Linked DNA regions of Homo sapiens. The protein of the gene in region 1 interacts with the protein of each later gene in a biochemical or structural test. Each region holds a gene or a part of one and is shown in the gene's direction. Other genes may lie near its edges.

Region 1 (3,500 bases):
GCAAAGCTGTTTAGAGGAAGACTACAGCATAGCAGTTAAAAGCTCAGGTTCTGGAGTTTCAATCCTGGGCCTGCCATGTCTTAGCTGAGTGACCCTGGGCAAGTTACTTTACCTCTCTGTGCCTTAGTTACTTCGTCCGTGTGTGAAGGTTAAATGAGTTAATATATACCAACTGCTTAGAAGAGTGCCTGGCATATAGTAAGTGTGAGCTACTTGTAGATATTATTGGGAATAACCAAGACATGTTCCAGGGCAGGGAGGTGACCAGCCTGACAGGAGGGGAGGATTTGGAGGAGTGATAGGAGATGGTATTGCAAAGGTGTTTTCGGGACAGGTTGGGGCCAGTCTGCCTGGACATACCCTCATCACTGAGAGCCCATTCTCTTACCTGTGGTACTCTCTTATTCTGTAGGTTGGAGAAAGAGTTACTGAGACAGCTGTGTGAATGTTTGTTTAAAAATGTTGGCTGGGGGCCAGGCGCGGTGGCTCATGCCTGTAATCCTAGCACCTTGGGAGGCCGAGGTGGGCGGATCATGAGGTCAGGAGATTGAGACAATCCTGGCCAACATGGTGAAAACCCATCTCTACCAAAAATACAAAAATTAACCAGGCCTGGTGGTGCGTGCCTGTAATCCCAGCTACTAGGGAGGGGGAGGCAGAAGAATTGCTTGAACCTGAGAGGCAGAGGTTGCAGCGAGCTGAGATCGTGCCACTGCACTCCAGCCTGGGTGACAGAGTGAGACTCTGTCTCAAAAAATGTTGGCTTGGCGCAGTAGCTCACACCTGTAATCCCAGCACTTTGGGAGGCTAAGGCAGGTGGATCACTTGAGGTCAGGAGTTCGAGACCAGCCTGGTCAACATGGTGAAACCCCGTCTCTACTAGAATCACAAAAAAATTAGCTGGGTGTGGTGGCATGTGCCTGTAATCCCAGCTACTCGGGAGGCTGAGGCAGGAGAATTGCTTGAACCCAGGAGGCAGAGGTTGCAGTGAGCCAAGATCATGCCACTGCACTCTGGCCTGGGCAACAGAGTAAGACTCCATCTCAAAAAAAAAAAAAAAAAAAGAAAAGGAAAAAGAAAAATGTTTACTTGGCTGGGCGTGGTGGCTCATATCCGAATCCCAGCACTTTGAGAGGTCAAGGCGGGTGGATCACTTGAGGAGACCAGCATGGGAAACATGACGAAACCCCATCTCTACTAAAAAAAAAAAAAAAAAAATACAAAAATCAGCCGAGTGTGGTGGTGCATGCCTGTAATCCCAGCTACTCTGGAGGCTGAGGCAGGAGAATCGCTTGAATCCGGGAGGCGGAGGTTGCAGTGAGCTGAGATGGTGCCACTGCGCTCCAGCCTGGGTGATAGAGCGAGACTCTCGAAAGAAAAAAGAGAAAAGTTTACTTTTCCCAACAAAGTTGAATAGCTTTTTTTTTTTTTTTTTTTTTTTTTTTTGGAGACGGAGTCTCACTCTGTCACCCAGGCTGGAGTGCAGTGGCACCATCTCAGCTCACTGCAACCTCTGCCTCCCATGTTCAAGCCATTCCTCCTGCCTCAGCCTCCCGAGTAGCTGGAACTACAGATATGCGCCACCATACCCGGCTGATTTTTGTATTTTTAGTAGAGACGGGGTTTCTCCATTTCCCAGGCTGGTCTCGAACTCCTGCCCTCAGGCGATCCACCCACCTTAGCCTCCCAAAGGATTACAGGCGTGAGCCACTGTGCCCAGCTTAAAATTGAATAGCTCTTGAACTCAAAATTTGTCTTTCTAATATCTCAGAAATTTACCTTGCATATTGTAAACATCCAGTGTAGTGTGACAGTCACTGTGTCCAAAGATGAGCATAGGTGCTATGGAAGGCTCCCACAGGTGCTGAACTGGGGCAGGGGTGGAGGTTTGAAAGCAACTTTTTTTTTTTTTTTTTTTTGAGGCGGAGTCTCGCTCTTTCACCCAGGCTGGAGTACAATGGTGTGATCTTGGTTCACTGCAACCTCCGCCTCCCGGGTTCAAGCAATTCTTCTGCCTCAGCCTCCTGAGTAGCTGGGATTACAGGCGCACGCCACCACGCCTGGCTAATTTTTGCATTTTTGTTTTTTTTTGTTTTTTTTTTGAGATGGAATCTTGCTCTGGCGCCCATGCTGGAGTGCAGTGGTGCGATCTCGGCTCACTGCAAGCTCCACCTCCCAGGTTCACGCCATTCTTCTGCCTCAGCCTCCCGAGTAGCCAGGACTACAAGTGCCCGCCACCATGCCCAGCTAATTTTTTTGTATTTTTAGTAGAGACGGGGTTTCACCATGTTAGTCAGGATGGTCTCGATCTCCTGACCTTATGATCCTCCTGCCTCGGTCTCCCAAAGTGCTGGGATTACAGGCGTGAGCCACCATGCCCGGCCCCCAATTTTTGTATTTTTAGTAGAGCTGGGGTTTCACCATGTTGGTTAGGCTGGTCTCAAACTCCTGACCTTGTGATCCGCCCACCTCGGCCTCCCAAAATTCTAGGATTACAGATGTGAGCCACTGCGCCTGGCCGAAAGCAACTCTTGATTGAGAAGTTGAGGTCTCAGATGTAATATTCTTGCTTCTTGTCTTCTCTTTCCTTTTTTTTTTTTTTTTTTTTGAGACGCAGTCTCGCTCTGTCGCCCAAGCTGGAGTGCAGTGGCACGATCTTGGCTCACTGCAACCTTCACCTCTGGGTTCAAGCAATTCTCCCTGCCTCAGCCTCCTGAGTAGCTGGAATTACAGGCGTGTGCCACCATGCCTGGCTAATTTTTTTTTTTTTTTTGAGATGGAGTCTCGCTGTGTTGCCCAGGCTGGAGTGCAGTGGTACAGTCTTGGCTCACTGAAAGCTCCGCCTCCTGGGTTCACGCCATTCTCCTGCTTCACCCTCTCGAGTAGCTGGGACTACAGGCGCTCGCCACTACACCCAGCTAATCTTTTGTATTTTTAGTAGAAACGGGGTTTCACCATGTTAGCCAGGATGGTCTCGATCTCCTGACTTCATGATCCACCCACCTTGGCCTCCCGAAGTGCTGGTATTACAGGCGTGAGCCACCGTGCCTGGCCTGATTTTTGCATTTTTTAGTAGAGACGGGGTTTCATGGTGTTGGCCAGGCTGGTCGTGAACTCCTAACCTCAGGTGATCCGCCTGCCTCAGCCTCCCAAATAGCTGGGATTACAGGCGTGAGCTACCGCACCCAGCCCTTGTCTTCTCTTTCAACCTTGAAGCAGAAAGTTAAGAAAGTTGCTTCTGGTGGCTGTGTAGTTTCTCCTTCTGACCCTTGCTGCACACATACTCTAGAATTCCAGAGCTGTGTGAGGGATCTTGGAAAGCAGACACCAGTGGCCTCTGTTTACAGATGAGGAGGCTGAAGTCAGTGGTGGAGCCAGGCCCAACATCAAGGTCCCCTGCTCTCTGGGCCTTGCTCCTGCTTTTTAGATGGTTGCTTTTGGTCTTGAGGAAGGGACAAGATGGAGAAGAAGAGGGTTCATTTCAGATTCGGTGGCTGTTT
Region 2 (3,122 bases), on another chromosome or scaffold:
GTCCAAAATCAGGACTAGGGGAGAAGCATGAGGAATGCCCTCCAGGTCCTGATTCAGAAAACTCAGTATAAGAAGGAGATGCAGGCCAGTAGCCATCACTGACCCCGTCTCTGTCCCCTAGAGAGGCAGCCGCTATGATGGGCAAATTGCAGTGTTTGGGGCTGGTTTTCAGGAGAAACTGAGACGCCAGCACTACCTCCTGGTGAGCTGTGGGGTGAGACTGGGGGTGCCTTTGGGAGAGCCAGCCCAGCCCCTCTGGCTAAGGCTGTTCCTGCCAACAGGTGGGCGCTGGTGCCATTGGTTGTGAGCTGCTCAAAGTCTTTGCCCTAGTGGGACTGGGGGCCGGGAACAGCGGGGGCTTGACTGTTGTTGACATGGACCACATAGAGCGCTCCAATCTCAGCCGTCAGTTCCTCTTCAGGTCCCAGGACGTTGGTGTGAGTGCTGACCCCTCTCCACACTCCTGCATCCCAGACCGTCCTCCCATACAGCTTCCCACCCAACATCTTCCTGCCTTCTTCCCAGAGACCCAAGGCAGAGGTGGCTGCAGCAGCTGCCCGGGGCCTGAACCCAGACTTACAGGTGATCCCGCTCACCTACCCACTGGATCCCACCACAGAGCACATCTATGGGGATAACTTTTTCTCCCGTGTGGATGGTGTGGCTGCTGCCCTGGACAGTTTCCAGGCCCGTGAGTGCTTGACTTCGGAGGTCAGTCCCTTGCCCACAGCTGTGCCAGTCCCACTTCTGACCCACTGCTCCCTTGCCAGGGCGCTATGTGGCTGCTCGTTGCACCCACTATCTGAAGCCACTGCTGGAGGCAGGCACATCGGGCACCTGGGGCAGTGCTACAGTATTCATGCCACATGTGACTGAGGCCTACAGAGCCCCTGCCTCAGCTGCAGCTTCTGAGGATGCCCCCTACCCTGTCTGTACCGTGCGGTACTTCCCTAGCACAGCCGAGCACACCCTGCAGGTAGGAAGCACCCTGGAGACTCCCACCCCACCCAGCTCAGCCCTCAGCTGCAGACCTGTTCTCCACCTGATACCTCATTCTTCCTCCCTCCTCCACAGTGGGCCCGGCATGAGTTTGAAGAACTCTTCCGACTGTCTGCAGAGACCATCAACCACCACCAACAGTAAGGCCACCAACAGAGGCAGATGGGAGTCCAGGGCTCCAAGCATGAGTCTGCAGGACTCAGTCTCACACTTCCTCCTCTCTCTGCAGGGCACACACTTCCCTGGCAGACATGGATGAGCCACAGACACTCACCTTACTGAAGCCAGTGCTTGGGGTCCTGAGAGTGCGTCCACAGAACTGGCAAGACTGTGTGGCGTGGGCTCTTGGCCACTGGAAACTCTGCTTTCATTATGGCATCAAACAGCTGCTGAGGCACTTCCCACCTAATAAAGTGTGTGGCTAGGGGTTGGGACGCTGGGGGCTCAGGGGGACCAGACTGAGCCCAGCAGCTTCTACTTACCTACCTAGGTGCTTGAGGATGGAACTCCCTTCTGGTCAGGTCCCAAACAGTGTCCCCAGCCCTTGGAGTTTGACACCAACCAAGTGAGTGGGATTCTGTAGGGAGCTCCAAGATAGAGATGTGGCCCCTCAGAGCAGAGGTAGGCATTTCTGCATTCTGCAGAGATGCACAGATGCCCAGAGAGAGCCATGCTTGTGCATATATGGGTGTCTACATGTGAGGCAAAGGCAGGCACTCAAACAGATCCACAAATGGACAGTGACCCCCACCCCATGCACCCATGCCTCTGTTCCTGCTCTTGGTCTGGCTGCAGGACACACACCTCCTCTACGTACTGGCAGCTGCCAACCTGTATGCCCAGATGCATGGGCTGCCTGGCTCACAGGACTGGACTGCACTCAGGGAGCTGCTGAAGCTGCTGCCACAGCCTGACCCCCAACAGATGGCCCCCATCTTTGCTAGTAATCTAGAGCTGGCTTCGGCTTCTGCTGAGTTTGGTGAGGCTCCTGGCCCTGGCCCCTCATGCTGTCTTTCAAAGGCCTGAACCTGTCCTGTCCTCAGCCTGTGCTGCAGAAGGAAGATAGGGCCTAGGGGATCTACAGCCAATTTGCTACCTCTCAGGCCTCCTAACCTCACTCCTCCATAGTTTCAGGCTTATCCTCTGGTCCCTCAGTAGGTCTTCTCCCTGCTGCCTACCCCACATCCCAGTTCTTGTGGCAGATTCTTGGCAAAATAAATAAGTAAATAAATAAAGTCCATTGGTTCCTGGGGAGTGTCTAGCTATGGCCTGCAGGTGAGGACAGGGTCACAGAGGTCATGAGCACACATGGGTGAAGACTGGGGCTTCTAGAGGGGAGATTGTAGCATTAATTAAGGGGGCTTCTTGATTTGATCAGGGAATAGTAAGTGACAGGCTTGGCAAAGACCAAGAATAGGCACAGGGCTCCAAGAAGAGTGCAGGAGACAGGGGCTAAGGACTGCCTCAACATCCCCTCCCCTGACAGGCCCTGAGCAGCAGAAGGAACTGAACAAAGCCCTGGAAGTCTGGAGTGTGGGCCCTCCCCTGAAGCCTCTGATGTTTGAGAAGGTGGGTGCCCAAGTGGCAGTGAGGAGTGGGGCTGGGGAGTTTGTGGAGAAAGGTCAGGAGCTAATAAGGTAGTTTTGGAGCCCCTTGGCCTGAATTCTCCCAGCAAGACCCTGGAAGCAGCTCACATTCCCTGAACCTCAGCCTGTCTGATCAAGAGGAGATGTGGGGCAACCCCCCGACAGAACTGTGTGGAGACTTGTGCAGTGACACGCAGTGGGCCACGGTGAGGGGCACAGCTGCAGTGTTAACACTACTTTGACTTGGGCCTTACAGGATGATGACAGCAACTTCCATGTGGACTTTGTGGTAGCGGCAGCTAGCCTGAGATGTCAGAACTACGGGATTCCACCGGTCAACCGTGCCCAGGTAACCCCACCCCTTGAGGCTTGGGCCTGGAGGTGGAGGGCAAACCCTGGCCCTACGCCTTGGGCCCAGACCAAATCTCTTGTCCTTGGCAGAGCAAGCGAATTGTGGGCCAGATTATCCCAGCCATTGCCACCACTACAGCAGCTGTGGCAGGCCTGTTGGGCCTGGAGCTGTATAAGGTGGTGAGT
Region 3 (3,500 bases), on another chromosome or scaffold:
AGACCCATTTCTATTAAAAAAATGAAGAAAAGTAGCTGGGTGGGTGGTGTGCACCTTTAGTCCCAGCTACTCAGGAGGCTGAGGCAGAAAAATTGTTTAATCCCAGGAGTTTGAGGTTATGGTGAGTGATGATTGAGCCACTGCACTCCAGCCTGGGTGACAGAACCAGACCCTGTCTCAAGAGGAAAAAATAAATGTTTTGATTTTTTTTTGTCTTTCATGATACCGAAGCAATAAAAAGATTTATAGAACTTGTTATTTAAAAAAAAACTTGGTGTTAAGAGAATCCTGTAACCAACTTAAAATTATTGTGCAGTCTTCTTTTTATTTGGGTGAGAGGGTGTGGTAAATTTTTGGTATAGGGAATACAAAATAAAGAATTGGGCAGTATTGGTAATTCAGTCCTTTATAAATTCTCAAAGCACTTATAATCAGTAGATGTGATACATGGGCAAAATGAACAAAACAGAAAATACTTACTGGTAAATTAAGTATAAATACTCCTATGGTAAATACATTGTTAACATAGAAATATCTAAGTTAGAAATATCCAAGTTCAAACTTAGAAATATGTGAGTTTCTCCTAAGAAATTTTCTGTATAACCAAGTTCCAGATGAGCAAAAGACATTGGTTTGTTATGGAACCTCTGTAGAATAGGAAATGTTTTTAGTAGTTCAGATGTATTTTTTTCTTACCTTGTTGAGAACAAAACAGAATTATGTTTTTCAGGTTGCCATGGCTCCGTAGAAAAGAGCTCCTCTGGGAGAATAACGTTAGGAGAGCAGGCAGCTGCCCTAGCAAACCCTCATGACCGTGTGGTGGCTTTAAGGAGAGTGACTGCTGCTGCTCAGGTTCTTCTGGCCAGAACCATGGTCATGAGAGCGCTGTCTCTTCTCTCAGTCAGGTAAGTGTTATTTTATGTCACATGATGCTAAGTTAACTTCTAGTGTACATTAGCTGGAAGTCTGGTGGTGTTTGGGAGGGTGAGATAGAATTTTAGAAGCTTGAATATGTACTGTTGAATGAAAGATGTTAGACGTAGTCATTGTTATTCACTCAATCGGTCATTCAGTTAATACTTGGCTCTTTTTAGGTAGAAAATAATGCCATTATCACAACTGAGTAAACTGCATACATTTTATTTTGTTGCTTGAAATGGGAAACTAAGGCTGTTGATCCCAATGGTGCTGGATCAAAAACTAAAGGTCAAAATGTATTGACCGTCTGTGTAGCTAAGTCAGCCTGCAGATGCCATCATGGGGATCCTTGCCGTGTTGATACTGTGGAGTGTAATGTAAAAAGGGGATGAGAACCAGAAATACCTAAAAGACAGCTGTTTAAGAAGTGATTAAGCAGGAGTATTTAATGGCAAATCAGTGAAGGCAGAAAGATCCTGAAAGAAAAACAAAATTTCCATAAGACTGTGTGCTATTGGCTCAAGGATAGGCAAATAGGATAGTACAGAAGAGAGTTAAGAAACTGACCCATACATATAAATAAACACTTGATTTATGGTTTGATTTATGACAGTGGTTCACACTGTAGAGCAATAGAGAAAGGCTGTTTTTTTCAGTAACTGAAGCAGGGTCTGATGGTTTATCCACATAGAAAAAAAAAGCCTTGGTCCCAACCTCAAACTATATAAAGCAAATAGTTATAAAGTGGCTATTAGATCTAAATATAAAAGAAAAATAAATCAATAAAGTTTATTGAAGGTAACATAGAAGAATTGCTTCTTGGTCTTGGGACAAGCAAAAATTCCTCAAGCAAGTCACAAAAGGAATCTGCCATAAAAGATTGATAAATTGGAATACAATAAAATAGAAAACCTCTGTTTAGCAAAAGTGATTTGAAAAGTAAGAAAGTAAAAAAGCAAGCCATAGAATGGGAGAAGATATTAGTAATGCATCTAACCAACAGAATGTGTAAAGAATTCCTATAAATTAACAAGAAAAAGACAACCCAGAAGAAAGTGGACAAAACACATTAAGAAGTGTTTCACAAAAGAGGATCTCCAAATGGCCAATAAACATGAAAAGATGTTCAACCTCAGTGAGTCTTCAGAGAAATGAAAATTAAAATCCAGTGTGATTGGGAGGCCAAGACGGGAAGAACCCTTGAGCCAGGAGTTTGAGACCAGCCTGGGAAACATAGTGAGACCCTGTCTCAAAAAAAAAAAAAAAAAAACCTAAGACAAAAAACCCACCAATGAGATACCATTGCACACCCACAAGAATGGCAAACATTTAAAACACTAGAGAGAAAAAAGTGACTGAAACAGCTAAAACTCCCATACATTGTTAGTGAGAAAATGAATTGGTATAACCACTTTGGAAAACTGTTCGATAGTATCAACTAAAACTGAACAGGAACATACTCTGTGACCCAGAGATCCACTTCTGGGTATATATCCAACAGAAATACTTAAATATGTGCCCCCTAAAGACCAATCATTCATGGTAGTACTATTCATAATAGCCCCATGTTGGAAACCGCCTGATTGTCATCTGTAGGGATAAATGAACTGTGGCAGATTTCATGTATATGTCAATGAAAACGAACTGCTCAATGCTACAAGATTTGGATGAATCTTACAAACATAATATTGAAGAAGCCAGACACAAAAGAGTACATATATTAATTATTCAATTGATGTAAAGTTCAAAAACAGGCAAAACTAACTTGTAGCTTTAGAAGTCAGGATAGTGGTTACTTCTGAGAGCATCGTGACTGAGAAAAGCCCAAAGCAGGTTTCTGAGGTACTGGCAATGTTCTGTTTCTTGATCTGGAGGGCGGTGACATGGGTTTGTTCAGCTTATGAAAATTTATGCTTTGTGAACATTCCTGTTTTACTTTGTCAGTTCAATTGTACTTCAAGTATATGCCAATACTTATTAAAAGGAGAGAACGTTTAGATGCCAGTTTCCAGCTTGATACCTTTGGCAACTCTTAGGACATGTATGGCTAATGATAGTGCAGCTTACATTTTATTATGGTTGTTGATGCTGTGAATGTTATGTGGGACTGCAAATGGTCCCTTAAGAAATCCATTTTCTTTATCCATCTGAGATGTTTTTCTTTACTGGCAGTGGTTCCAGTTGTAGCCTGGCTGCTGGTCTTGAGTCTCTGGGGCTAACAGATATCCGAACGCTAGTTCGATTAATGTGCTTGGCAGCAGCAGGGAGAGCTGGCCTCTCCACCAGCCCTTCTGCCATGGCTAGCACCTCAGAACGATCACGAGGTGGGCATAGCAAGGCTAACAAGCCTATCTCTTGCCTGGCCTATTTGAGCACAGCAGTGGGATGTCTGGCATCAAATGCTCCTAGTGCTGCCAAACTGCTTGTACAGTTGTGTACACAGGTAAGCTACTTTCAGTACTTTTCCCCGTTACATTGATTATTTCTGACTGATTCTTGAGCCTTTTGAAATGAAATATTTTTGTTCCAAAATTACATGTAAAAATTAAGTCTGTTTTTCCAATTGCTTCTTCAGAACTTGA
Region 4 (3,500 bases), on another chromosome or scaffold:
AAATATCGTCAGTACTTTACACTTCACGTACCTATCTTATCTTACTAAACTGTAAGTATCTTGAGGCTAGAGTTGTGACCTTTTTACAGTTTTTTGCATTTAGTGAGTTCCCAAGGAATTCATTAAGTGAATTCTTTTTTTTTTTTTTTTTAAGACAGAGTTTCTCTCTGTCGCCCAGGCTGGAGTGCAGTGGCTCGATCTCGACTCACTGCAACCTCCACCTCCCAGGTTCAAGTGATTGTCCTGCCTCAGCCTCCTAAGTAGCTGGGATTACAGGCACCTGCCACCATGCCCAGCTAATTTTTGTATTTTTAGTGGAGGCGGGGTTTCACCATGTTAGCCAGCCTGGTCTCGAACTCGAACCTCAGGTGGTCCGCCTGCCTCGGCCTCCCAAAGTTCTGGGATTACAAGCGCGAGCCACCGCGCCCAGCCTCATTGAGTGAATATTAAAATGTTGTGGAGGAGTTAATATTTACAAACAAAATGTTTGCTAATATTTACAAATAAACAAAATGTGTTAATATTTACAAACAAACATTCATTGTGTAAATGAAACACAACACCTTCATTGCCAATTTGTCGAACATTTGAGTACTTACTGTGTGCTAGTCATTGGGGACATAGGGGTGAGTAAGACATGATCCCTATTTTCAAAATTGTTTATCCCTTCTAGTGGAGAAGATAGCACAAAGAGAATGGGCAAAAATGGTTGGGCACAGAAGGGCTGACTGTAAAAGTAGCCAAACTCAGAATACCAAACTGATAGAAAGGTTATGATGAGGTCTTTTTATATCCTCTCCCACGAACATGGTTTGCAGTATCTATTAGGTATGGTAGGACATATGCCAAGAAAACTACACAAATCAGAGTGTTCATTAGTGCAGGGTGCAGTGTGTCTGGATGGGATGTCAAGTGCATAAGGCTATGCAGCATCCCAAGTATTGTCAGTCATGGAAGCTAGATCAGTTTTGGTGGGTTAGGGAAGACAGAATTCAGCAGAGAAGAATGGAAAAGGAATTTCAAGTCTGGAAGCCTGTCTTTACAACAACAACCAAAAAAGTTAAAGAGCCCAGAGCTCTAATAGTCTGGCCTTGTCCTTTGCTCTCCCTTGTGTAATGTATTCATTTCCCATAAACTCTTCTGTTAATCCTTACTGAAAAGAAGGCTGTTGCTGTTATCAAGCCCTATGATAATACTAGCTGTATTTGTAATGTTGACATTAACTTCAGTCTGTTTCCCCTGCAGCCCCTCTGGCTGTACATTCTGGGGCAAGAAGCCATGGAGCCGTAAGAAGAAAATTCTTTGGCAGCTGGGCACGTTGATTGGTGCTCCAGTGGGGATTTCTCTCATTGCTGGCATTGCCATTCCTGCCATGGTCATTGGCATTCCTGTTTATGTTGGAAGGAAGGTAAGAAAGACATGCTGGTTTCTGTGCTTGTTTCAACTTTAGGTTCGTTAGTAAAGGTTTGAGGGAAATGGGAAGGAGCTATGTTTCAGAGCTGCCTGAAAACCAGCTGGTTCTTAGATAAAAATAACCTTACTTTCTTAAATGGATTTTCATAAACCCCCATGAGATCTGAAAGTTCTTATTAACATCCTGGGCCTGGCTTGTCTCAGTGACTTAAAGGTAGAATGCTGGGCCAGGCATGATGGTTCACATTTGTAATACGTGGCCTAGCACTTTGGGAAGCCAAGGCAGGTAGATCAGTTGAGCCCAGGTGTTTGAGACCAGCCTGGGCAACATGACAAAACCCATCTGTACCCAAAAAAATAGAAAAATTAGCTGGGTATGGTGGCATGTGCCTACAGTCCCAGCTACTAGGGAGGCTGAGGTGGGAGGATTGCTTGAGCCCAGGGACGTAGAGGTTGCAGTGAGCCAAGATCGCACCACTGCACTCCAGCCTGCATGACAGACTCCAAAAAAAAAAATAAAAGAAGAAGGTAAAATGCTTACTTCATTCTGCTGGAGTTATTTTGTCTCTTTTTGGATTAACTTTGCCTGTATTACTTTATATCTTCCAGGTCTGAGTTAGGTTAAAATTTGATAAAGATGCCTATTTGGGGTAGAGGATATGTTTTAATATAGATAACTTACAAGTGAATATTCACCTGTCCTTTTTTTCTCTGGCAAAAGATTGATGTCCTAACCTGCTGACCTGGATTTTCTTTTTTTATTCTTAGATTCACAGCAGGTATGAGGGAAGGAAAACCTCCAAACACAAGAGGAATTTGGCTATCACTGGAGGAGTGACTTTGTCGGTCATTGCATCCCCAGTTATTGCTGCAGTTAGTGTTGGTAAGCTAGTCAGGACCACACCTCTTCTCTCTCAGCTTTCTGACCATAGCAGTTTAGCCAGATGGCCAGATGTTTCTCAAAGACTCCTACATTTTATGCGAACCCACCTTGATAGTAAATTCTGTTAGGCACCATGATTATGATTATTTTTAAGTTTTTCAAGCACACCAAATTATCAGAGTGTGCAATCTTTTGTTCTTAAGTTAGTGCCTAGAACTCCATTTGGCACATAGAAAAGGTTGAATTACAGAAACTTATTTTAAGCCCTAGTTTTCACCTTTCATCTTCCTTCTCTACTTGCCATGAAATCCACAAAACAAAATTACTTTTGTTTTGATTTGTTTAATGCTTCACATTACTTTGGGAGGCATAAGAGTTTGTTTTAGAATAATAATAGTGTAACTAACATTTAATGTGGCTCTTCATGTGCCAGGAGTGGTTCTGAGACTTTTGCATATATTAATTTATTTAATCCTCACAATCCTTACAAAAGGAAGCACAATTTTAATAGAAAGGTGCAGTAATTGGCTGGGCGCAGTGGCTCACGCCTGTAATTCCAGTGTTTTGGGAGGCCGAGGCGGGCGGATCACGAGGTCAGGAGATCGAGACCATCCTGGCTAACACGGTGAAACCCCATCTCTACTAAAAATACAGAAAATCAGCCGGGTGTGGTAGCGGGTGCCTGTAGTCCCAGCTACTTGGGAGGCTGAGGCAGGAGAATGGCGTGAACCTGGGAGGCGGAGCTTGCAGTGAGCCGAGATCGTGCCACTGCACTCCAGCCTGGGCAACAGAGTGAGACTCCGTCTCAAAAAAAAAAAAGAAAGGTGCAGTAATTTTCCCAAGGTCACTTAGCTGGGACATGAATCAAGTTAATCTGCCTTCAGATCCTGTTCTCTTAACAGCTAAGCCATTCTACCTCACACAGCAGTAAGATTTTGGAATTAACATCCTGAGGAGATCCTAAACTCCAAGCAGTAGTCACTTATTTAATATTTGATTCTTGATTGGCTCTTGATTGGGTTAGCATTTCAGCAGTGATTAGAAGAGGGGAAAATGAAAGCAACATATATTTACTGTGCAAAACACAGTACATAGCATTCTCATTTGATTATTGACAACCCTGGGAAGATAGGTCCAAGGTTATACAGCTAGTAAATGGAGCCAAGAATCTAATCCAGACCTTTCTGATTTCTAGCCTGGTCAT
Region 5 (3,500 bases), on another chromosome or scaffold:
CAGTTGGAGTTGACAATTCAGTTCAGTGACGGGGGGGACTTTTTTTTTTGAGGCAGGGTCTCTGTTGCCCAGGCTAGAGTGCAGTGGTGCAATGTCGGGTCATTACAACCTCAGCCTCCTGGGCTGAAGCAGTCTTCCTGCCTCAGCCTCCCAAGTAGCTGGGATTACAGATGCCCTCTACCACGCCTGGGTAATTTTTGTATTTTCAGTAGAGACAAGGTTTCTCCATGTTAGCCAGGCTGGTCTCATACTCCTGGTCTCAAGTGATCCACCTGCCTCGGCCTCCCAAAGTGCTGGAATTACAGGTGTGAGCCACCACACCCGGCTACCAGGGAGAATTTCTTACCACCTAGTTCAGTGGCAGATCATTAATGTGTCCAAATAAACATGTCGTGCCTTCCCCTGCTCTGCCAGCTCATTTTTTCTTTCTTTCTTTTCTTTTTTTTTTTTTTTTTTTTTGAGACAGTCTCACTTTGTCCCCAGGTGGGAGTGCAGTGGCATGATCTCGGCTTACTGCAACTCCACCTCCTGGTTTCAAGCAATTCTCCTTCCTCTCTCAGCCTCCCAAGTAGCTGGGACTACAGGTGCACGCTACTACACCCAGCTAATTTTTGTATTTTTGGTAGAGACAGGGTTTCACCATGTGAGCCAGGATGGTCTCAACCTCTTGACCTCCCAAAGTGCTGGGATTACAGGCATGAGCCACTGCACCCGGCCAGCCAGCTCATTTTATCTGCGGAAGTGGATGTGTAGATAGTACTACATCTCCAACATGGAGGTGGTCAGAACTGGTAGGTTTGGATTTCCACCTTAGTAGCCCTGAATGTTTGTCCCAGTTAGGATTTCGTGATAGAAGATACCTGCTTGCATTATGGTATTGCCAAATGTAATAGCCATCCTTAAGTTTCTGAGGGTGTTAATGAGATTTTTATGGAGCAAAGAGAGCTTTAAAGTATGATGCCCTCATAAACTCAGCTATTCTACAAATAATAGCTGTTAATGCATTACATTGTAATTACTCTATCAAAGTTTATTCCTCTGACTTGAAATTTTAATCTAGTTCAAATCCTTCAGCATATGTCCTATCCATTTATAATCTGCTATTTTTTAACTGGTGAAAGATGAACTAAAAACTACAGTGGAAGAAAGGAAGTCTTCAGAAGCCTCCCCCACTGCGCAAAGAAGTAAAGATCACAGTAAGGAATGCATAAACGCTGCCCCAGATTCTCCGTCCAAACAGCTTCCAGACCAGATTTCATTCTTCAGTGGAAATCCATCAGTTGAAATAGTTCATGGTATTATGCACCTATATAAGACAAAGTAAGAAAACCCTCTTTTCTTGGGGGTTAGTCAATTTTTTTTTTTTTTTTTTTGCTTTGCTTTAGCATAGTCTCTTGTCCTGAAGGAAAGTGGGTATTTTAAGCTTCAAAATAATAATACTTTTGTCTGTTGTATGTTAGAGAATTCTCAGATGTTTTACATTTGATTAATCTTGTGGATTGGGTCAAAGCTTTTCCTTATAAAAGAAATGCTTGTGGATACACTTAAGAGAATATGTGGGAAAAATGTTTTCTTTTTTTTTTTTTGAAATGGAGTTTCGGTCTCGTTGCCCAGGCTGGAGTGCAATGGCGCGATCTCAGATCACTGCATCTTCTGCCTCCTGAGTTCAAGTGATTCTCCTTCCTCAGCCTCCCAAGTAGCTGGGATTACAGGTGCCCACCACCACACCTAGCTAATTTTTTGTATTTTTAGTAGAGATGGGGTTTCACCCTGTTGGCCAGGCTGGTCTTGAACTCCGACCTCAGGTTATCCGCCCGCCTCAGCCTCCCAAAGTGCTGGGATTACAGGCGTGAGCCACTGCGCCCTGCCAGGAAAATGTTTTCTTAGCAGATAGGCATGGAAGGTGATGGGGAATTGAAAGGACAAAGAAAATGATCCACAGCATCTTTGTAGTCTCATGTCCCCACCAAATCTTTACTGAAGAGGCTGCTAAGAAGTCAGTTAACTCATTACAATTTTATTACCTCTTTTTTACCATTTTCTGTGGTTCAAACAAAGCTTGCTAGAGCCCCAAGGAAAGGAAGCATTTGGCTAGATAATCCACAAGCCCAGCCACTACCTTCTTGGGTAATGGTAGCTGATACCTTAAGGCTGTTCTTGTGCTAACTCATTTGCCAGATCTCTACTGGGAAAACAGTGACTATTCAGGTAGCCATTTTGTTTTTTGTTTTGTTTTTTGTTTTGTTTTTTGTTTTGTTTTTTTTTGAGACAGGGTCTCACTCCATAACTCAGGCTGGAGTGCAGTGGTGCAATCCTGGCTCACTGCAACCTCCCCTCCCGGGTTCAAGCAATTCTCCTGCCTCAGAGTAGCTGGGACCACAGGTGCACACCACCACGCCCAGTTAATTTTTTTTTTTTTTTTGGCAGAGATGGGGTTTCATCATGTTGGCTAGGCTGGTCTCGAACTCCTAACCTCAAGTGATCAGCCCACCTCAGCCTCCCAAAGTGTTGGGATTACAGGTGTGAGTCACTGCACCCGGCACAGGTAGCCATTCTGGATCACAGCTGTCAAGTGAGTTTGCAGCATTTCAAAAAACAAATTGCATTGTGGGAGGATTTTCTTTCCTCTCTATTCCAGCCATCTCAACTTGGTAACACTTCCTGTAATCCTCAGTTACATCCTCATGGTTTAGAATTCTCTCTTGCCGGGCGTGGTGGCTCACGCCTGTAATCCCAGTACTTTGGGAGGCCGAGGCGGGGGATCACGAGGTCAGGAGTTCGAAACCAGCCTGGCCAACATAGTGAAACCCCATCTCTACTAAAAATACAAAAATTAGCCCGGCGTGGTGGCACGCGTCTGTAATCCCAGCTACTTGGGAGGCTGAGCAGGAGAATTGCTTGAACCCAGGAGTCAGAGGTTGCAGTGAGCCGAGACCATGCAGCAAGACTCTGAAAAAAAAAAAGACAGAATTCTCTCGTATATTTAGAGCTGTTTTTTTAGGCCTTTTAAGAGAGGTCCATAGCCAGAGTTGTGCTTTTAAGTTAACCAGTGACAGATTTTTTTTTTTTTTTTTTTTTTTGAGATGGAGTCTTGCTCTGTGGCCCAGGCTGGAGTGCAATGGCGCGATATTGGCTCACTGCAAGCTCTGCCTCCCAGGTTCACACCATTCTCCTGCCTCAGCCTCCCAAGTAGCTGGGACTACAAGCACCTGCCACCATGCCCGGCTAATTTTTTTTGTATTTTTAGTAGAGATGGGGTTTCACCGTGTTAGCCAGGATGGTCTCGATCTCCTGACCTCGTGATCCACCCGCCTCGGCCTGCCAAAGTGCTGGGATTACGAGCATGAGCTACTGTGCCTGGCCACCAGTGACAGATTATTATTCAAACATTGATGAGAGTAAAACACTGCAAATTTACCGAATGCAGATTTATAACCGTAATAAATGTTGAACTGAAGATTAAAAAGTCCAATGGGGGGTATAATATAGAACAGTTCATT
Region 6 (3,500 bases), on another chromosome or scaffold:
CATGCTTATTGCTGCTGGGTTTGTTATGTAGTTATTGTGAATTCACATTTAGGAATATAGGGTTTTTAATTCTTTGATTTTAGATACTTGTATCTTTTTTCTTTTATATTTAAAACCTTGGTTCCTGATGATATCCCTTCTTAGAAACCCTGTCTACCTTTGGCCTTCAGCCCACCATGCTGTGGTTTTCCTAACTTGCTGCCTGCACTTTTCAGATTCCTTTCATGGATCTTAAATATCATCTGTAAATAAGATCTATGTGTCAATAATTACCAAACTTTTATCTTTAGTCTTGACATCTACCCTGAACACCTAGCTTTGACTAACTCCTAGCTTTGGCATCTCCACTTGGAAATCCAAAAAGTGTTTCAAACTGAACATGTCTATGAAAGACTTATTTTTTTCTCTCTATCCATGCTATCCATCAGGTTTTCCATTTCCATAAGGGTGACTCTTGTACTCTGGTTCCTATATATTATACCGACAGAGCAGCCCAGAGTGCTTCTTAACCAGTGTAAGGCCTGTTATGTCCCACCCTCACTCTTTGTCCTTCAGTGGCTTCCCAGCACACTTAGAATAAAATCTGAAGTCTTAGGCCGGGCTTGGTGGCTCATGCCTGCAATCCCAGCACTTTGGGAGGATGAGGGGGCAGATCACTTGAGGTCAGGAGTTGATGAGACCAGCCTGGCCAACATGGTGAAACCCTGTCTCTACCAAAAAATACAAAAATTAACTGGGTGTGGTGTTGTGCACCTGTAGTCCCAGCTACTCGGGAGGCTGAGATAGGAGAATCACTTGAACCCGGGAGGCAGAGGTTACAGCGAGCCAAGATCATACCACTGCACTCCAGCCTGGGTGACAGAACGAGACTCTCAAAAAAAAATTAAAAAAAAAAAATATGTGAAGTCTTGAATAAAACCCAAGATCTTTACCATGGCCCCTGAACAGGGCAGAGTATCCATTCTTCAGACACTCTTCATAGAATACCATGGTGAGCTGGCATATTTATTATACAATACAGAAACAATTTTACTGGCAGAAAACACATTAAACCGTCTAAACTCTGAATACAGTTGTCCTCATAAAAAATGTTCAACATACTATTTTGAGGTTTTCCATTAATAGTTCTTATAATCTTTGTCCCATTATGTGTTAATCCAACAAAGGATATCCAATAACAAACACCAAAGTTTAAGAAAAATGTGCTAGGCGCGGTGGCTCACACCTGTAATCCCAGCACTTTGGGAGGCCGAGGTGGGCAGATCACCTGAGGTCAGGAGTTCGAGACCAGCCCAGCCAACATGGTGAAACCCTGCCTCTCCTAAAAATACAAACATTAACTGGGTGTGGTGGTGGGTGCCTGTAATCCCAGCTACTCAGGAGGCTGAGGCAGGAGAATCGCTTGAACCTCCTGGGAGGCAGAGGTTGCAGTGAGCTAATATTGCACCACTGCACTCCAGCCTGGGTGACAGAGTGAGACTCCATCTCAAATTAAAAAAAAAAAAAAATTAATGATAGAGAAACTTAAATCAGTTAGATTGTTTTAGGTATAGCCCATCCTTGGTTTTTGTGTGTAGCATCTAGCTTGGGGAAACCCTGGATTTCTGGAATCATATTTAGACACAGTCACACTAGACTAATGTAATTCTTTTGGGATGCAAACCACACGTTTGACACCTTAAATAGCTTTTAGGTATTTGGCTTCCCAGCCCCTATTTTTAGTTACAAGGGGTGTACATGTGTGGGTCAGGGTGGGGGTAGCTCTTTCCGCAGATGATTAGTTTTAGCCATGTTACTAGTTATTGCACACATTATCTGTGTCCTCACAGCAGCCCTGTGAGTAAGTGTATTAGGGTTCTCTAGAGGGACAGAACTAATAAGGTAGATGTATATATGAAGGGTAATGTATTAAGGAGTATCGACTCGTATGATCACAAGGTGAAGTCCCACAATAGGCTCTCTGCAGGCTGAGGAACCAGGAAGCCAGTCCAAGTCCCAAAACCTCAAAAGTAGGGAAGCTGACAGTGCAGCCTTCAGTCTGTGGCAAAAGGCCTGAGAGCCCCTGGCAAACCACTGGTGTAAGTTCAAGAGTCCAAAAGATGAAGAACTTGGAGTCTGATGTTTGAGGGCAGGAAGCATCCAGCATGGGAGAAAGATGAAGGCTCAGCAAGTCTAGTACTTCCACACTCTTATTTCTGCCTGCTTTATTCTAGCTGAGCTGGCAGCTGATTAGATGGTGACCACCCAGTTTGAGGGTGGGTCTACCTCTCCCAGTTCACTGGCTTAAATGTTAATCTCCTTTGGCAACACCCTCGCAGACACACCCAGAAACAATAATTTGTAGCCTTCAATCCAATCAAGTTGATAATATTAACCATCACAGGAAGGTACTAGTATCATATGTTTAACAGTAGAAACCAAGACAAATGCAGCTAGGAAGTGGGAGAACTGGGATCAGATGCAGGCAGTCTGATTCTAAATCAGTTGCTGTTACCCACTCTGACAACAGTAAGTGAGTAGCCTGCTCAGTCAAGTACTATATTAGTAGGGCCCTTTACAGACATATTTATTTCTCACAGTCACTCAATGAGACGGCTCTTCCAGTCTTACAATGGAGAAAGTGAGGCTCAGAGACTTTAAGTAACTTACCTTAGACGACTTTACTAGTAAGTATAAGAATCATTATTTGGACTAAAGTCTTTCTGAATCCTCAGCTTGTATTTTTTTCCAGTGTTCTGTGCTGCCTTTTTATCTACTAGTGTTTTACATCAATTTTGAATCTCTTTACTAACTGGTTAGGTTGATTTTTGCCTTTTTTTTTTAGGTTATTCTATATTTGTCGTTAAGGGTGATCTGCCAGATTGCGAAGCTGACCAACTCCTGCAGATGATTAGGGTCCAACAGATGCATCGACCAAAACTTATTGGAGAAGAATTAGCACAACTAAAAGAGCAAAGGTAAAAATGAGGCCTGCAGTATGGAATATATGGTAGTATTTCATTATGAGAATTAAATTTTCATGCTTAGATTGAATATGTGGTCCTTGTGTTGTTGGCGACTCTATTTTGGACCTTATATTTTAGTGAAGTTTATTAGTTTAAACTTGAATCAACTCTTTGAAATACTTAAATATATTAACTTAGTTAGCTGGTATGGTATATTCCTAGCACTTCGGGAGGCTGAGGCAGGCTGATTGCTTCAACCCAGGAGTTCGAGACCAGCCTGGGCAACATGGCAAAACCTCATCTCTACAAATAGTACAAAAATTAGCCAGATGTGGTGGTGTATGCCTATAGTCCCAGCTACTTGGGAGGCAGAGGAAGAAGGATCACCTGAAACTGGGGAGGTAGAGACTACAGTGAGCCATAATCACACTACCGCACTCCAGCCTGGTCGAGAGAGTCAGACCCTGTCTCAAAAAAAAAAAAAAAAAGAAACGGAAAAAAAAAACTTAGTTGGATTCAAATTGCAACACAATCATTATATTACTAGAGCTTATT
Region 7 (3,500 bases), on another chromosome or scaffold:
AGGCTAAATAATACAATAGTATACATTTTTAAAGAAAAATAGTAATCTTTTGCTCACTCCACTACTCATCCCTCAATCTCACTTTCAAGAGGCAACAACCTTAATTATTTTAGCTGTTTCTTCTGGTTTTACTTCTATATTTCTGTGTTATAGGATACCACATTTTGCTTATCCATTGGACACTTGGGTTGCTCCCACATTTTAGCTATTGCGAATAATTCTGTGGACACGGGTATACACGTATCTCTTTGAGACCCTGCTTTTCAATTCTTCTGGCTGTATACCCACAAGTGGAATTGCTGGATCACATAGTCATTCTGTTTTTAGTATTTTGAGGCATCACCATACTGTTTTCCGTGGCAGCTGCATTTTACATTCCCTTCAACAGTGCACAAGGGTTCCAGTTTCTCCACATCCTTAACAACACTTTTATTTTCCTTTTTTTTTTATAGTGGCCATTATAATGGGTGTCAGGTGGTATCTTATTGTAGCTTTGATTTGCATGTCTGTAATGATGGTGATATTGTGCATTTTCATGTGCTTTTTGGCCATTTATGTATCTTTCAAGAAATGTATAGCCAAGTCTCTTGCCCATTTTTGAATTGGTTTGTTTTATTGTTGTTGAGTTTTAGGAGTTCTCTGTATATTCTGGATATAATCCCTTATCAGATATATGAATGTGCAAATATTTTCTCCCACTCTGTGGTTTGCCTTTTTTACTCTGTTGATAGTGTCTTTTGATGTACAACTTAACATTTTTTCATGAAATTCCAATTTGTTTATTTTTTGTTGTTGTTGCCTATGCCTTTGGTGTCATATCCAAGAAATCATTGCTAAACTTCATGCTGTGAAGGTTTTGCCCTGTGTTTTCCTTTAAGAATTTTATAGTTTTAGGTCTTACATTTAAGCCTGATCTCTTTTGAGTTAATTTTCGTATATGGTATTAGGTGAGTGTCCAGCTTTGTTCTTTTGTTTGTGGATATCCAGTTTTTCCCCACCATTTGTTGAAAAGCCTGTCCTTTCCCTCACTGAATGATCTTAGCACCCTTGTCAAAAAGTATTTGACCATGTATGTGAGGTTTTATTTCCAGGTTCTCTGTTCCAAGGTCTCCAACCCTCAGGCCGTGGACTAGCACCAGTCCACAGCCTGTTAGAAACCAGGTCGCACAGCGGGAGGTGAGCAGCAGGAGGTGAGCAGCAGGAATTCGAGCATTACAGCCTGAGCTCCACCTCCTGTCAGATCAGCAGTGGCATTAGATTCTCATAGGTGCAGGAACCCTACTGTGAACTGTGCATGTAAGGGATCTAGATTGCATGCTCCTTACGAGAATCTAATGCCTGATGATCTGAGGTGGAACAGTTTCATCCAGAAACCATTCCCCTGGCCTGTGGGAAAATTGTCTGCCATGAAACTGGTCCTGGCCAAAAAGGTTGTGACTGTTGATTTATTCCATTGGTCTAGATGTCTGTCTTTATGCCAGTATCACAGTTTTGATTACCGTAGCTATGTAATATGTCTTGGAATCAGGAAGAGTGAATTCTCCAGCTTTAATTATTTTGTAAGATTGTTTTGGCTATTTGGGGCCCTTGAGATTCCACGTGAATTTTAGAATGAGTTTTTCTATTTCTGATAAAAAAAAAAAATTGGGATTTTGAGAGGAATTGTAGTGAATCTGTAAATTTGTTTGGGTAGTATTGATATCTTAGCAATATTAAGTCTTTCTTTTCCCACATAGGCTGATGGGGAAAAAAAAAATTAAGTCTTCCAGTACATGAACATGAGCTGTGTTTCTATTTATTTATGTGTTCTTTAATATCTTTCAGCAATGTTTTATAGTTGTTATTGTACAGGTTTTCATTTTCGTGGTTAATTTTGAAATATTTTTTCTTTTTGATACTATTGTAAAAACTACATAATTTCCTTTTCATCATATTTATTATTAGTTTATAAAAATGCAATTGATTTTTGCGTGTTGACTTTGTATTCTGCTACTTTACTGAATTCATTTATTCTAACAGGTTTTTTGTGTGAAATCTTTAAGGTTTACTGTATATAAGAGCCTACCATCTGTGAACAGGAATAATTTTACTTCTTTCTTTTCTGTTTGTATGCCTTTTATTTCTTTTTCTTGCTTAGTTGCTCTGGCTAGAACTTACTCAAGCATTCTTATGGTGTAGAAATCAGATTGCTTCCGTGTGAATGGGAATAGATACAAATCTTATTTATTGATCCTGATTTTGTATTTTGATACTTTTCATATTTTTATAAAGGGACTTACTTTCCATTTAATGTAGCTTTTAAACTGATTTTCTAAGAAATAAACCTTTTATATTTAATTTTATTTCTAAAGTGGCACAGGGAGTTTGACATGCAGTTTTTTAGCTTTTATTTAATGCCCATCAATTGCTTACAATGTGACTAACAAATTTTTGCATTGCTGTGTTATAATTCTTACTGCCTAATGAAGTTATTTACAAATATATTTGAATTTCTTTATGAAATAAATTGGGAAGTAACATTTCATAGTTGATGTGGAAGATTGCTTTCTTTTCTTTCTTGGGAAAACCCTTTTTATTTTCAGTCATGTGAAAACACTTAAACATATCAGTGTGCTTTTTTACCTGTCTTACAGGATTGTACTGCAGCCTGTCTTGGTTAAATCGGAAGGTTTTGAGGGGTAGAGCTAGTTAGTGGGGTTAGTATGGCCTGACTAGTGGCAGGCAATGTGGCTATTTTTTTTTTTTTTTCAATTTTTTGCTTTTTGCTTTATTTATGTTTTAGCAAAACTGGTGATCCAAGCAAGTGGAGTATTGCATTTTATCTCTTTATTACGTTCACTTTGAAATAAGGATTGAGTGTTTGTTCATGTTTTATTATTTGTTTGTACAAAGTCCTATGAGTAGAATTATTGGATCAAGTAAAAAGAACGTTTTAGACTCTTGATAACATATTGCCAAATTATTTTAGTGCCAGTTTAAATTCCACAAGCAAAGTGAGAGAATGCTTGTCATATCTCATTACTTTTTGCCTTTACTGGGTGCTATTGAAAACAGATCTCTGTGATTTTTAGATGAAAACTTGTATCTTGCTTAAATTTTTATTTTTAAAATTAGTAACAGGAGCAAGTATTTTATTTTATTCGATTTTATTTGTTTTTTTTTGGAGGGGGGGGACAGAGTCTTGTTCTGTCGCCCAGGATGGAGGGCGGTGGCGCTGTCTCGGCTCACTGCGGCCTCCACTTCCCCGGGTTCAAGCAGTTCTCCTCTCTCAGCCTCCCGAGTAGCTGAGGCTACAGGCATGTGCCACCACACCGGGCTAATTTTGTATTTTTAGTAGAGATGGGGTTTCGTTACGTTGGCCAGGCTGGTCTTGAACTTCTGACCTGAGGTGATCCACCCGCCTTGGCCTCCCAAAGTGCTGGGATTACAGGTGTGATCCACTGCACCTGGCCAACAAGAGCAAGTATTTTAAATGCTTATTACCCGGTTGTCTGTCTTTT

What was found.
Region 2: of the proteins of UBE2L3 (region 1) and UBA7, one has a biochemical effect on the other in vitro, tested with the Homo sapiens proteins (2 studies listed by BioGRID).
Region 3: the proteins of UBE2L3 (region 1) and HERC1 form a complex in vitro, tested with the Homo sapiens proteins (one large-scale study listed by BioGRID).
Region 4: the proteins of UBE2L3 (region 1) and RNF19B form a complex in vitro, tested with the Homo sapiens proteins (one large-scale study listed by BioGRID).
Region 5: the proteins of UBE2L3 (region 1) and BRAP form a complex in vitro, tested with the Homo sapiens proteins (one large-scale study listed by BioGRID).
Region 6: the proteins of UBE2L3 (region 1) and ATXN3 form a complex in vitro, tested with the Homo sapiens proteins (one study listed by BioGRID).
Region 7: the proteins of UBE2L3 (region 1) and PIAS2 form a complex in vitro, tested with the Homo sapiens proteins (one large-scale study listed by BioGRID).

The regions. Positions count from the first base shown.
Region 1 is NC_000022.11:21,574,214-21,577,713, forward strand, and holds part of UBE2L3 (ubiquitin-conjugating enzyme E2 L3), read left to right. Parts: intron 1-3,500. UniProt on the Homo sapiens protein: Ubiquitin-conjugating enzyme E2 that specifically acts with HECT-type and RBR family E3 ubiquitin-protein ligases.
Region 2 is NC_000003.12:49,807,832-49,810,953, reverse strand, and holds part of UBA7 (ubiquitin-like modifier-activating enzyme 7), read left to right. Parts: intron 1-121; coding exon 122-202; intron 203-281; coding exon 282-437; intron 438-525; coding exon 526-691; intron 692-770; coding exon 771-976; intron 977-1,074; coding exon 1,075-1,139; intron 1,140-1,228; coding exon 1,229-1,412; intron 1,413-1,489; coding exon 1,490-1,564; intron 1,565-1,794; coding exon 1,795-1,978; intron 1,979-2,485; coding exon 2,486-2,568; intron 2,569-2,841; coding exon 2,842-2,934; intron 2,935-3,026; coding exon 3,027-3,122. UniProt on the Homo sapiens protein: E1-activating enzyme that catalyzes the covalent conjugation of the ubiquitin-like protein product of ISG15 to additional interferon stimulated proteins (ISGs) as well as other cellular proteins such as P53 in a process termed protein ISGylation.
Region 3 is NC_000015.10:63,655,949-63,659,448, reverse strand, and holds part of HERC1 (probable E3 ubiquitin-protein ligase HERC1), read left to right. Parts: intron 1-715; coding exon of another isoform or gene 716-730; coding exon 731-905; intron 906-3,090; coding exon 3,091-3,361; intron 3,362-3,493; coding exon 3,494-3,500. UniProt on the Homo sapiens protein: Involved in membrane trafficking via some guanine nucleotide exchange factor (GEF) activity and its ability to bind clathrin. Acts as a GEF for Arf and Rab, by exchanging bound GDP for free GTP.
Region 4 is NC_000001.11:32,944,310-32,947,809, reverse strand, and holds part of RNF19B (E3 ubiquitin-protein ligase RNF19B), read left to right. Parts: intron 1-1,245; coding exon 1,246-1,408; intron 1,409-2,181; coding exon 2,182-2,296; intron 2,297-3,500.
Region 5 is NC_000012.12:111,679,457-111,682,956, reverse strand, and holds part of BRAP (BRCA1-associated protein), read left to right. Parts: intron 1-1,121; coding exon 1,122-1,320; intron 1,321-3,500. UniProt on the Homo sapiens protein: Negatively regulates MAP kinase activation by limiting the formation of Raf/MEK complexes probably by inactivation of the KSR1 scaffold protein.
Region 6 is NC_000014.9:92,082,583-92,086,082, reverse strand, and holds part of ATXN3 (ataxin-3 reference isoform), read left to right. Parts: intron 1-2,579; exon of another isoform or gene 2,580-2,670; intron 2,671-2,824; coding exon 2,825-2,957; intron 2,958-3,500. UniProt on the Homo sapiens protein: Deubiquitinating enzyme involved in protein homeostasis maintenance, transcription, cytoskeleton regulation, myogenesis and degradation of misfolded chaperone substrates.
Region 7 is NC_000018.10:46,886,508-46,890,007, reverse strand, and holds part of PIAS2 (E3 SUMO-protein ligase PIAS2), read left to right. Parts: intron 1-3,500. UniProt on the Homo sapiens protein: Functions as an E3-type small ubiquitin-like modifier (SUMO) ligase, stabilizing the interaction between UBE2I and the substrate, and as a SUMO-tethering factor.